Homo sapiens: one gene and its partners. The protein of the gene in region 1 interacts with the protein of each later gene in a pairwise test. Each region holds a gene or a part of one and is shown in the gene's direction. Other genes may lie near its edges.

Evidence for each region.
Region 2: the proteins of CNTNAP4 (region 1) and FBXO21 interact in a two-hybrid assay, tested with the Homo sapiens proteins (one study listed by BioGRID and IntAct).
Region 3: the proteins of CNTNAP4 (region 1) and MAST3 interact in a two-hybrid assay, tested with the Homo sapiens proteins (one study listed by BioGRID and IntAct).

What each region holds. Positions count from the first base shown.
Region 1 is NC_000016.10:76,275,173-76,278,920, forward strand, and holds the start of CNTNAP4 (contactin-associated protein-like 4 isoform 1 precursor), read left to right. Parts: upstream 1-2,228; 5' UTR 2,229-2,490; coding exon 2,491-2,575; intron 2,576-3,748. UniProt on the Homo sapiens protein: Presynaptic protein involved in both dopaminergic synaptic transmission and GABAergic system, thereby participating in the structural maturation of inhibitory interneuron synapses.
Region 2 is NC_000012.12:117,188,430-117,192,177, reverse strand, and holds the start of FBXO21 (F-box only protein 21), read left to right. Parts: upstream 1-1,707; 5' UTR 1,708-1,721; coding exon 1,722-1,960; intron 1,961-2,815; coding exon 2,816-2,951; intron 2,952-3,748. UniProt on the Homo sapiens protein: Substrate-recognition component of the SCF (SKP1-CUL1-F-box protein)-type E3 ubiquitin ligase complex.
Region 3 is NC_000019.10:18,121,683-18,125,430, forward strand, and holds part of MAST3 (microtubule-associated serine/threonine-protein kinase 3), read left to right. Parts: intron 1-2; coding exon 3-91; intron 92-167; coding exon of another isoform or gene 168-170; coding exon 171-240; intron 241-424; coding exon of another isoform or gene 425-445; intron 446-990; coding exon 991-1,069; intron 1,070-1,534; coding exon 1,535-1,692; intron 1,693-1,897; coding exon 1,898-1,973; intron 1,974-2,256; coding exon 2,257-2,466; intron 2,467-2,582; coding exon 2,583-2,684; intron 2,685-2,959; coding exon 2,960-3,092; intron 3,093-3,748.

The sequences.
Region 1 (3,748 bases):
TACTGTAGCCCATTGATATGGAAAAATCCGCCAGTATTGGTCACTATAATAATTTATACATTGTCCCAAAGAAGTTATTATTGTTATAAAATGTTTATTTTTCATTTTTGCTATGTGTACTTATCCATTTAAGATGCATTCTCTAATTTGTTTTAAGAGAACAATTAAATACAATATTGTAACAACGAGACAACTTTTTTCTTCTGGAGAGCCCACAACCGTCCCACAGACATGATATTTTCTTCAAAGGACTGATATAATTATTCAATTAGATAACAAATGGCATATAGTATGTGTTCAGTAAAATTTAATCTCCTTCAATAATTAGTTAACATAAACTGTTAATTTATATCTGCTTTTACTTAGCATATGATTGAAAAAATAAAATCAGGAATGCAAGTCTAGGAACACAGAATAAACACTCAACCCATGACCTTTCTTTATTTTATTGTATTTATCCTTTTTTTTTTTTTTTTTTTTTTTGAGACAGAGTCTCGCTCTATTGGCCAGGCTGGAGTGCAGTGGTGTAATCTTGGTTCACTGCAACCTCTGCCTCCCGGGTTCAAGCGAATTCCTGCCTCAGCCTCCCAAGTAGTTGGGATTACAGTTGCCTGCGACCACACCCTGCTATTTTTTTTATTTTTAGTAGAGATGGGATCTCACCATGTTGGCCAGGCTGGTCTCGAACTCCTGACCTCAAGTGATTTGCCCACCTTGGCCTCCCAAAGTGTTTGCTGTGTTTTCCTAGGGCCTAAGGTTTTTGCTGCCACTGACAAGGGTCAGGAAGGAGGTATACTCTGATTTAGGGGCAATAAGTCCTAGGGTGAGAGCAGTAAAACTGGAGTCAGAAAAGCCAAATCCAGTCCTCAGCATTTATTACTAACTCTATGACCTCTTCGAATCATTTAAATTCTCTGTTCTTGTTTTCTCTTGTAAAACAGGAAAAGAAAAAAGATGCATTCTGCTTTGTTTGCAGGCATGAGCTAAACAAGCATGTTTAGTTCTTACGGGTATTTCTGTCATTTTCTCACTCTTTGACAAACCTATCTGATCTTTGACAAACCCACTCTCATTATTCCATAAGAAAGTGGTGTTAAAGGCTTATGTTTCTTCCAATTTGTGATTACCAAGAGGCACTTAAGAACTCCAGGATTTCCATTTGTATAAAATCTAGCACATTATCAGTAAAACATCTTGACATTTATTTTAAATAGATTATTTATCTGCTATGAACCATGTGACATGCTTCTTGTTATGTGATAGTAACTCCATTATTTAGACATTTTAAAATTCCATTCAAGAAACAGTTGTATCCATGGACCAGCCATTCAAAGAGTAATTTTTCTTTAATCATTGATCTTCCAAATTCAACTTTACTCCTCTCTCCTTTAAGTCACCTGAATTACATCGTCACATTGTTCAGTGTTTGTGTGAATGTGTATGCATGTGTGTATGTGGTGGTGGTGGAGGTCCCTTTCTTCAGTATTCCCTCATTTCCTACTTTGGGCCTTTTTGGAAATGTTATTAAAAATTTTGATTATAGAATGGTACTTCATATTCACAGCATGATGCATTCATCAACATAAATCTAGCCAAAGCATTTCATTTGTGGATTTATACACCTGAAGCATTAAAATAAGAAATGTTAATTTCTTGCAGACTACTACCAGATGATTTTAAATATCTGCTAAGCAGGAATGTCTGTTCCCATGTGGGGAATTTCCATAATAAAATCCTGGCACCCTCGCTGAAGAGTACAGTTTTATAGAAACAGAGAAAAACAACAGCAAGTATTTTCCCTGAGGACGGTTTTAGCTACAATTTCCCAATGCTGCTTAGTTATTTCTGTCTTATTTTATGCTTTTGTTTTGAAACATAATGCAATTTTACCTGGATGCACTCCCGGATAATCAGGAATGGCTCAGTGTGTTTTCTGGCTCTTGCAAATGCAAGACCTCCAGAAAATCAGAAGGCTCCACCGCCTTGTCCCTTCCCCCACTCACACCTCCAGCTGGGAGAAAAGGGTTAAGGATTATTGGAAAATAGAAGAGAAGGGAGGGAGCCCCAAGGAGGCCCACGAACGGGAGGCCGCGCCTCTGGGTGCAGCGGAGCTCGAGCGCTGTTGTGTGTTTGGAAGGAAGGATGCTGCTGCCAATTTGTGGGACCGCTGCTGCGAGGAGTGGGCGTGGCCTCGGCGGTGTGGATGCTTGTTAGGAAAGATGCTGAGTGCTTTTCAGTGAGGAGTCAGGGAGGTGTGTGTGAGAGAGAGAGAGAAAAGAGAGAGACAGAGACGGGGAGAGAGAGAGGGAGAGAGAAGAGAGGGAGGAGGGAAGAAGAAAAGACGGAGGGAGGTGAGGAGGAAGGGAGGGGGAGAGACAGAGACCTAGAGGGGCTGAAGACCCAGACAGAGCTGGCAGAGCTACTGAGAAGAGGACTGGAGCGCTCTGAGAGCCTCTCAAGATCTTTTGGGGGAGCCCAATAAATGTGAACATGGGATCTGTCACGGGAGCTGTCCTCAAGACGCTACTTCTGTTATCTACTCAAAATTGGAACAGAGTCGAAGCTGGGAATTCCTGTAAGTATACAGCAAATGATTTAAAACTTGCTGGGGGGCTCTCTGCAAAACTTTGATTCTGTTGGTTTGATGATGATTATTTGCAGCTGGGATTGCTGCAAAGCGTATTGCTGTAAACCAAGCATCACTTAAAAATCTTGCCAATGTGACCGGTTAACACTTGTCTCTCCTCTTGGTCTGGTCAAAATAGGCAAAGTGTCATTTCTCTTTTTGTCTACTCGCAGAATCTTACCCTCTGGTCTTTGAGTATTCATTGAGAATGCCCAAGTTCTAGTAAAACATGAAATTAGCATCTTATCGGGGGAATAGCCTGTGAATATCTTCATTTCTTCTTTTTTAAAGAACTACTGAATTTTATTGGAATTATGTCTAAGAGGAAAACAACTGGCAGACTTTACATTATGCTGCATTGGCTTAGATTTCTGAAGTTTGCAATTGGGCAGACCAGTAGCTGCCTGCATCTTTAAAATAATGCAGGCTAATAACTGAAATGTACTGCAGGCTTCAGGAGCACCAGCACTGGCTGAGGCGAGTCTCAGTATTAAGAGCTGTGCCCTCGCTGCTAAGAGAATGAGACTTAGCGCTCTCCGGAAAGAGGAGCCTCTTCCTACATTTCGCTTAAAGGAAAACCAGTCAGGTGGTCTTTCAAAAGTAGGATTCCTTTGTGGTTGAATGCTTAACTGCATAAATTTGTAATTGAATGTTCTGATGAAATAGAACCTATTTAGGGAAGATTGAAATCTTATTTATAATTTAGATATCATCCATAATAATTTGGCAGACTCCCTTCATCCACTCTTTATTAGAGATAGAAAAAGTTTTAAAAGTTATCTTTGGCTTAAATTCTCTAAATGGGAGAATTTTCCCCTCCTGATTAATGACAAACAAGCTTGGCAAATACAACTTTTTATTTTTTCTTGGATTTTAAAGGAAAAGCTCATTTGCTTTCCAAGAACTGGCTATGAGGCCTGTCCAGGAATTTATGTTGCTGCTGTATCATCAGGCTTAGATTTGGGGAACAGAGGCAGTAATCAGACATTTGCTATGGCATATCACTTGACTATGTTAAGAGTTCTGATATGTGAAAAACATGACAAACTCATGGGCACAAGTCAAATGTCCCCTCACAGTACCTGGCTCCCGTGATTTCGTGTTTCAGTTCAGAATGGGCTC
Region 2 (3,748 bases), on another chromosome or scaffold:
CTACTGGAAGGGGAGGACTGCATGAAGTGCCTTGCAGGCAGCAGGAATAGTATATGTAGGGCCAGAAATGGGAGGAAAGAGATGACCAGCCTTGCTGGGGTATGCATGGCTAGTGAGAGAGAAAGACTTCAGATAGGTAAGAAGAGGTGGAGTTTGTTGCTTTGCAACAATGTTTGGGATGTCACATTCATTTCTACGGGAAATAGGGAGCCACAGATGGCTCAACGCCATCCATTGAGAGTCACTTTACTAGTTCAGCTCTCTCAGGGCATCTTGATTTCCAAGTTGCCAGGAGTACTTCATTGGACCCTCCATGTACTGACAACAGATCCTTCTAACTGTAATTGCACTTTGAGGTTTTGAAGCAAAGACTCCATTTTTCTCACCCCTGTATCCCCAGGGCACACAACACAGGGCTTTGGCACTGAACTAAACTGATTTTTTTTTTTTAATGTGCAGATCCTGAGACTACCCTCCCAATCCTGAGTGATAACTCCCGCTTTGAAGACTCAAATCCAGGCTTTAGCACTTTTGTCTCTGTAACTTTGAACCAGTGACTGCCACCTGGAAGAACTTTGCCTTTTCTGTAGAATAGGTATAACTGTGGTACCTATTGTGGGAGGTCAGACTATGCTCCCCAAATATGAAGGATTGTTGAGCTGGAAACAATTAAGAAACCAGTACAGGAGAGCTCTCTGCCTGCCCTCTATTAGCCTAAAATCAGGGCACACATTTGAGGATTATTATTACTCCCCTACACCATCATAGAGGGCTTCCCATAGCACCCACTCAAGAATATTGTTATTATTACATCATATGGTTAAGATTACTGACAAGCAAAAGTCAAGTGGATCTGAAATAGAATCCAAGACAAGGGGCTGGGCGCGGTGGCTCACGCCTGTAATCCCAGCACTTTGGGAGGCCGAGGTGGGTGGATCATTTGAGGTCAGGAGTTCGAGACCAGCCTGACCAACATGGTGAAACCCTGTCTCTACTAAAAATACAAAAATTAGCTGGCTGTGGTGGCGGGCGCCTGTAATCCCAGCTACTCGGGAGGCTGACGCAGGATAATTGCTTGAACCAGGGAGGTGGAAGTTGCAGTGAGCCGAGATCACGGCCACTGCACTCCAACCTGGGTGGTGGCGCGCGCCTGTAATCCCATCCGCACGGGAGGCTGAGGCAGGAGAATCGCTTGAACCCAGGAGGCAGAGGTTGCAGTGAGCCGAGATAGCGCCACTGCCCTCCAGCCTGGGTGAGAGCAAGACTCCTTCCCAAAGGGGGAAAAAAAATCCAAGACAAGGGATCCTGAGCAAGCCCTCTCACTCTCCGAACCTGTTTCCCCATCTGTAATATGGGGAGAAAGTTCGCAGGGTAATTCGGAAAGGTCCAATGCGCACAGAAAGCGCTCAGCACGCGTGAGAATAGATACCATTTTTATTTGTTAATTTTAAACATTAATTACGTTTAAAAGAATCAGTGCTACTATTGTTGTCCCGGACTAGAGGCGGCTTGCGCTGCCGGCTCCAAGCACAGAGCCCAATTATGTCCTCCCTTTTGCGGCGCTGCCACCCGCGCAGCCCCCAGCCGATGCAGGGGAGGTGTGGCCCGCGGATGGGCGGAGCGATCTCAGGACTCGCCCCCAAGACCAGTAGGCGGGGCCAGGCGGGGCGCCCGGGCACTCTCGCACGCGCGCGCGCGGCGGCCCCAGGTACGCGGACAAGATGGCGGCGGCAGCAGTCGACAGCGCGATGGAGGTGGTGCCGGCGCTGGCGGAGGAGGCCGCGCCGGAGGTAGCGGGCCTCAGCTGCCTCGTCAACCTGCCGGGTGAGGTGCTGGAGTACATCCTGTGCTGCGGCTCGCTGACGGCCGCCGACATCGGCCGTGTCTCCAGCACCTGCCGGCGGCTGCGCGAGCTGTGCCAGAGCAGCGGGAAGGTGTGGAAGGAGCAGTTCCGGGTGAGGTGAGCCAGCGGCCCCGCGCCCCGGCTGCGCGCCCACCGCCCCGCGCCCCCCGGGGCCGGGCAGCCGCCCCGCTAGCTCCCCGCGGCCGCCCCGCGCGCGGACCCCACCCCGGACCCCTTCCCGCGGACAGACAGACAAAGGCCTCCAGGCCCCGGACCCTGCGGGGCCACGCCAGGCGGACCCCCGGGTCCCCAAATGGCGCATCTAGGAGCGCCTCGCAGCCGGGTCCTCCGTCAAGGGTGACGCTGGCGGCGGCGCGGCTCGTCCCTTTTGCGCGCTTCTTTTGTGCCCGACTTCGGGCTGAAATGTTTACATGGACCCAGTGATGCATCGATCGGGCGGGCGCAGCATCCCCGGGCTGGTTGTGGACGGCACAGATTTCAGCGTGGCCCCAGGATGAAATCTGGCCCTGCACACTCCCTCTGTGACCTTGGGGGGAGCGACTTCCCTTTTTTTGAGCCTCGTTCATAGACTTTGAGTGGTGGTGATCATTAGACCTACCTTTCACCGTGTTTATTAAATTAGATGATGTCCGGGAGGCACGCACGCAGGGCCCCGGCTCCTAGGAGGCGCTCAATCAGTGCTCACTGTCATTGTCATTATTATTATTGTTGTTGTTGTTACAACTGTCCCCATTTTAGAGATGGGGAATGGAGACATCATTCATGCCGCTACGCCAAGGTCACACCGGGAGTGAGTGAGTGAATGCTGGTGGGGTTTTGAACTAGGTCTCTCGCCGGGGTCCCTCTTACCACTGGACGCCACTGCTGTCCCTGTTTCCAAGGCTGCCTTGGATTCGTGGCCGCCTGCCTTTGAGTTTCTGTTAAGCTGAGGGGGTGTTTCTCTCCTCGTAGGTGGCCTTCCCTTATGAAACACTACAGCCCCACCGACTACGTCAATTGGTTGGAAGAGTATAAAGTTCGGCAAAAAGCTGGGTTAGAAGCGCGGAAGATTGTAGCCTCGTTCTCAAAGAGGTTCTTTTCAGAGCACGTAAGGATCTGTTGATGTGGCTCTAAGCTTTGGCTTGCTGGTGTATGTGTCTGGGTCTGCAGGCATGAGCTCATCCAGCTCTTTTCGTATCTCCCTTTTCAATGCTCTCACAATCCCTTACTCACTTAGATGGCTGCAAGAGTCATTGTGTCCTTTTCCTCCTATCCAACAACACGAAGCCATTTGTCTGTGCCAGCTTTACTTTTCTAAAGCCAGAGAGAGAGTGGGGGTGGAGGGAGCAGGGAGGGACCCACGCAGCACAATGTAGACGGAGTCCAGATCAGCATTATTTCTCAAATGGGTTCAACGGATTTTTTTTGCAACCCCTCCGTTATTTGGGGAATCATCAATGATTGAACACTGTAAATTTCTCCCGGTTGTTTTCCCAGAAGGGTTGACGAAATTAATGTGGTTCTTCTCTCTGGCTTTGCAGGTTCTACCCAGTAGTGAACTGCATTATTTGTTAAGGTAACAGAGGATTAAAAGCTACCTATAAATCAGAGTTATTACTCCCTGAAATGAATTGTCTTGCATTCATTATCCCTGAAAAGTTTTTGGGTTTTTTTTTTTTTTTAAGTATTGCAGAAATACATGGTGGGTTTTTTTTGTTTTGTTTTGTTTTGTTTTCTTTTTTTCTTTCCTCAAAATGTCTCATGGAAGTTTCTTTCTTTTTTCTTTTTTTGAGACAGAGTCTTGCTTTGTCTCCCCGGCTGGAGTGCAGTGGCGCAATCTCAGCTCACTGCAACCTCCTACTCCTGGGCTCGAGCAATTCTCATGTCTCAGCCTCCCGAGTAGCC
Region 3 (3,748 bases), on another chromosome or scaffold:
AGCTGCCGCAGCGGGAACCGCAAGAGCTTGGTGGTAGGAACGCCCTCCCCGACCCTCTCCCGGCCCCTGTCGCCATTGTCGGTCCCAACGGGTGAGTGTGGGAGCAGCCAGCGGGTGCTGTGTCCTGCCTCTGCCCCGCTGACTCAGTTTCCCCGCCTCCTCCTCAGCAGGCAGCAGCCCCTTGGATAGTCCTCGGAATTTCTCGGCTGCCTCTGCCCTAAATTTCCCCTTTGCCCGGAGGTGAGTGATTGCCGGCTTTGGGAGACAGTGCGGGCACCACGGGCAAGGGTTGGGCAGGGGCACGTGCTCGGTGGCTAGACCTGGCTCCTCATTCATTTCATTCACCTTTTCCCCTCCCCTGGCCCGTCTGGTGGTGGTCTCCCCCTCTGGCTCCCATTCCCGGCAAATGCATGCCATCTTGCAGCCACATCCCACGCATGGACAGGTAATTTCAACCAGCCCAGGGGGTGGGGGGTCATGGGGGGATATAGCCCTAAGAATCATTAACTCACTAAAGAAATCATTCATTCATTCACTTAACAAGAGCTGATTGAGCACCTGTCATGTGCCAGACGCTTGCATTTCATTTATTTATTCATACAACAACATTCATTAAGCACCCACTGTGTGTATGCTCTGTGCTGCGGGCTGAGGGCATGGTCGCAAATGGGCAGCTGGCCCTGAGCCCCTGGGGAGTCCTCCGTTTGGTGGGGGGTGGTCAATGTGTGCCCCAGAAGCTACAGCTCAGAGGTTGAAGCTTTGACAGGGGACACAGTGGCAGCTGGACTCACGGGGGGGCTTCCTGGAAGAGGTACCTAAAGAGAGAGAGCATGCAGTGGACTTGGTCAGCCTGTGTCTCTGTTCTTGGTTATTTTCAGGAGATCCTTCCTACAACAGGGCCAGAATATGCTGGCCACAGTGTCTGTTCTTAGTCCCCACAAACCACAGGGGCCAGGCCTTCCTTCCATCTGTTCTTGTTCCCCTCTCCAGGGCAGACGGCAGAAGATGGTCCCTCGCGTCTCTCCCATCTTCCGGCTATGGAACCAACACACCCAGCTCCACCCTCTCGGTACCCATAGCCCCACCTTGGCAGGTGGACAGGCAGATGCCGGGTTGTGGGGGGACACATCTTTGTGTGTTTTTTTCAAGGTGTTGGATAGTTGTGCAGTCAGCAAACATACTAGTTACTTCCTCCATGCACGCCCCATTCTGGGAAATGCAGGGTCCCCTGAGAAGACCCAGCCTTGGCCCCAAAATAGTCCCTGGTTGGGGAGATACAGATATCCTCAGCCTATGGGGTCAGGGCCTGACCAGAGGGGGACTTGGGGCTGCCCAGGGGTACAGGCAGAGAGGACTTCCTGGAGGAGAGGGCATCAGAGCTAGGGTTTTGAGGGATGCATAGGAGCTAGGCAGGAGAAAGGATGTTACCTTCTGATGGCCAGCAGGCAGCCTGGGCCTTGAGGGGTGGTGCTGGGTTCCTGGCCACAGCACTGACGGTGAACTCATGGCTCTGATCCCCACCACTCTCTACCAGTCAAGCTCATCCTCCCGGGAACGTCTCCACCAGCTTCCCTTCCAGCCGACGCCGGACGAGCTGCACTTCCTGTCCAAGCACTTCCGCAGCTCAGAGAATGTGCTTGATGAGGAAGGCGGCCGGTCACCCCGCCTCCGACCCCGCTCTCGCAGTCTCAGGTGGGCCGCGACCTCTGGCCCCAGCCCCGGCCCCTCCCTGGGCTGGTGTGGAGGCCCAAGTTGTGGCTCCTCCTTCACCCCAGCCCTGACCCTGCCTGAGCCTAGCCTCTGATTCTTGTCCCTCAACCCTGGCTCAGATCCCCCAACATCCTCCCCTGGGGTTGGTCTCAGGTCCCATATCACAAGCCAGCTGTCTTCCTTTCAGCCCGGGCCGTGCAACGGGGACCTTCGACAATGAGATTGTCATGATGAATCACGTGTACCGGGAGAGGTTCCCCAAGGTGGGCAGCGCCTGGCGGCTGGACCAGCCCCTGCACTTCTTTCCACATTGCTGTCCCTCCATGGAACTCTGTCTTCCTGGCTATGTCCCCTTTGCCAGTCTGTTCATTTCTGTCTTTCCTTCCCCTTCCGTTGAAAGATGTCGTTCCTCCTGCACCAGCCCTCCCACCCGATCGCCCCATTGCCCCATCTCCTCTCTCCCCAACCATGCCTCTCCTGCCCCATTCTGCGTGTGTCACTCCAGCCCCGCCCTCTGACCAGGTCGCCCCGTCTCGCCCCACCCAGGCCACAGCACAGATGGAGGGCCGTCTGCAGGAGTTCCTGACGGCCTACGCGCCCGGCGCCCGGCTGGCGCTGGCTGATGGCGTCTTGGGCTTCATCCACCACCAGATCGTCGAGCTGGCCCGAGACTGCTTGGCCAAGTCTGGCGAGAACCTCGTCACCTCCCGCTACTTCCTAGAGATGCAGGAGAAGCTGGAGCGGCTTCTGCAGGATGTGCGTGGTTTTTCGCATGTTGAGGTTTTGCATGCAGTGGGACGTGGAGTGAGGGGGGTCCCCAGGCCAGACGGTGCTGAGGACCTGTGGGTGATGCCACGACCCACCTCCCCCAGGCCCATGAGCGTTCGGACAGTGAGGAGGTCAGCTTCATCGTCCAGCTTGTCCGGAAACTGCTGATCATCATCTCACGGCCAGCTCGGCTGCTGGAGTGTCTGGTAAGTTTCTCTTTCTACGGCCAGCTTGGGGTCCAGGCAGAACTGAGATTGGGACCACAACAGTCCTGCCAAGATACAGGTGACAGTTCCCATCGTGTAGGGCTTTGAGAGGAACACAGGGTGCTATTGGGCTAGCGTGGGCTTCCCTAAGGAGGCAGCGGGAGTGGAGACCCAGTGGGTGAGCTGGGAAGGGTGCTCCAGGCAGAGGGAACAGCATGTGCAGAGGCCTGCAGGTGGAACCAAGCCCTGGGTGACCAGCCCTCCTGTGCCCCTAGGAGTTTGACCCTGAGGAATTTTACCACCTGCTGGAGGCGGCTGAGGGCCATGCGCGGGAGGGCCAAGGCATTAAGACTGACCTTCCACAGTACATCATTGGGCAGCTGGGCCTGGCCAAGGACCCCCTGGAGGGTAAGCCGGGATGGGAAGAGGAAACCAAGGCTGGGAAAGGCCGGATGGAGGCCAGGCACGGTGGCTCACACCTTTAATACCAGCACTTTGGGAAGCTAAGGCGGGCAGATCACTTGAGGCCAGGAGTTCGAGACCAGCCTGGCCAACATGGTGGAAACCCCCCCCCTACTAAAAATACAAAAATTAGCTAAGTGTGGTGGCGCATGCCTGTAATCCCAGCTACTCAGGAGGCTGAGGCACAAGAATTGCTTGAACTCAGGAGATGGAGGTTGCAGTGAGCTGAGATCGCGCCACTGCACTCCAACCTGGGCGACAGAGCGAGACCCTGTCTCAAAAAAACAAAAAAAGAAAGGGCAGATGAAGCCAGGATTCAAACCCAGGCCCATCCGATTCCAGAACCACCGCACTGTTCTTTGTCTCTCTGTGGCCTTGCTCTTAGGTCACCTGTGGGAATTATGCTGAGACCCTCTGATCTTTTGGGGCCCAGGGGCCTCAGTGTCCTCAAATGCCACGTTAAGATGGTCAGGAAGCCTGGGGACCAGTGTTAGCAGTGGCCTTCCCTTTGTCCTGCAAATTCACAAATGACTTTACCAATTTCTGTGGCCTTTACTGTGGCCCAGAAAGTGAACTTGGAGTCAAACAGGACAACCCGTAGG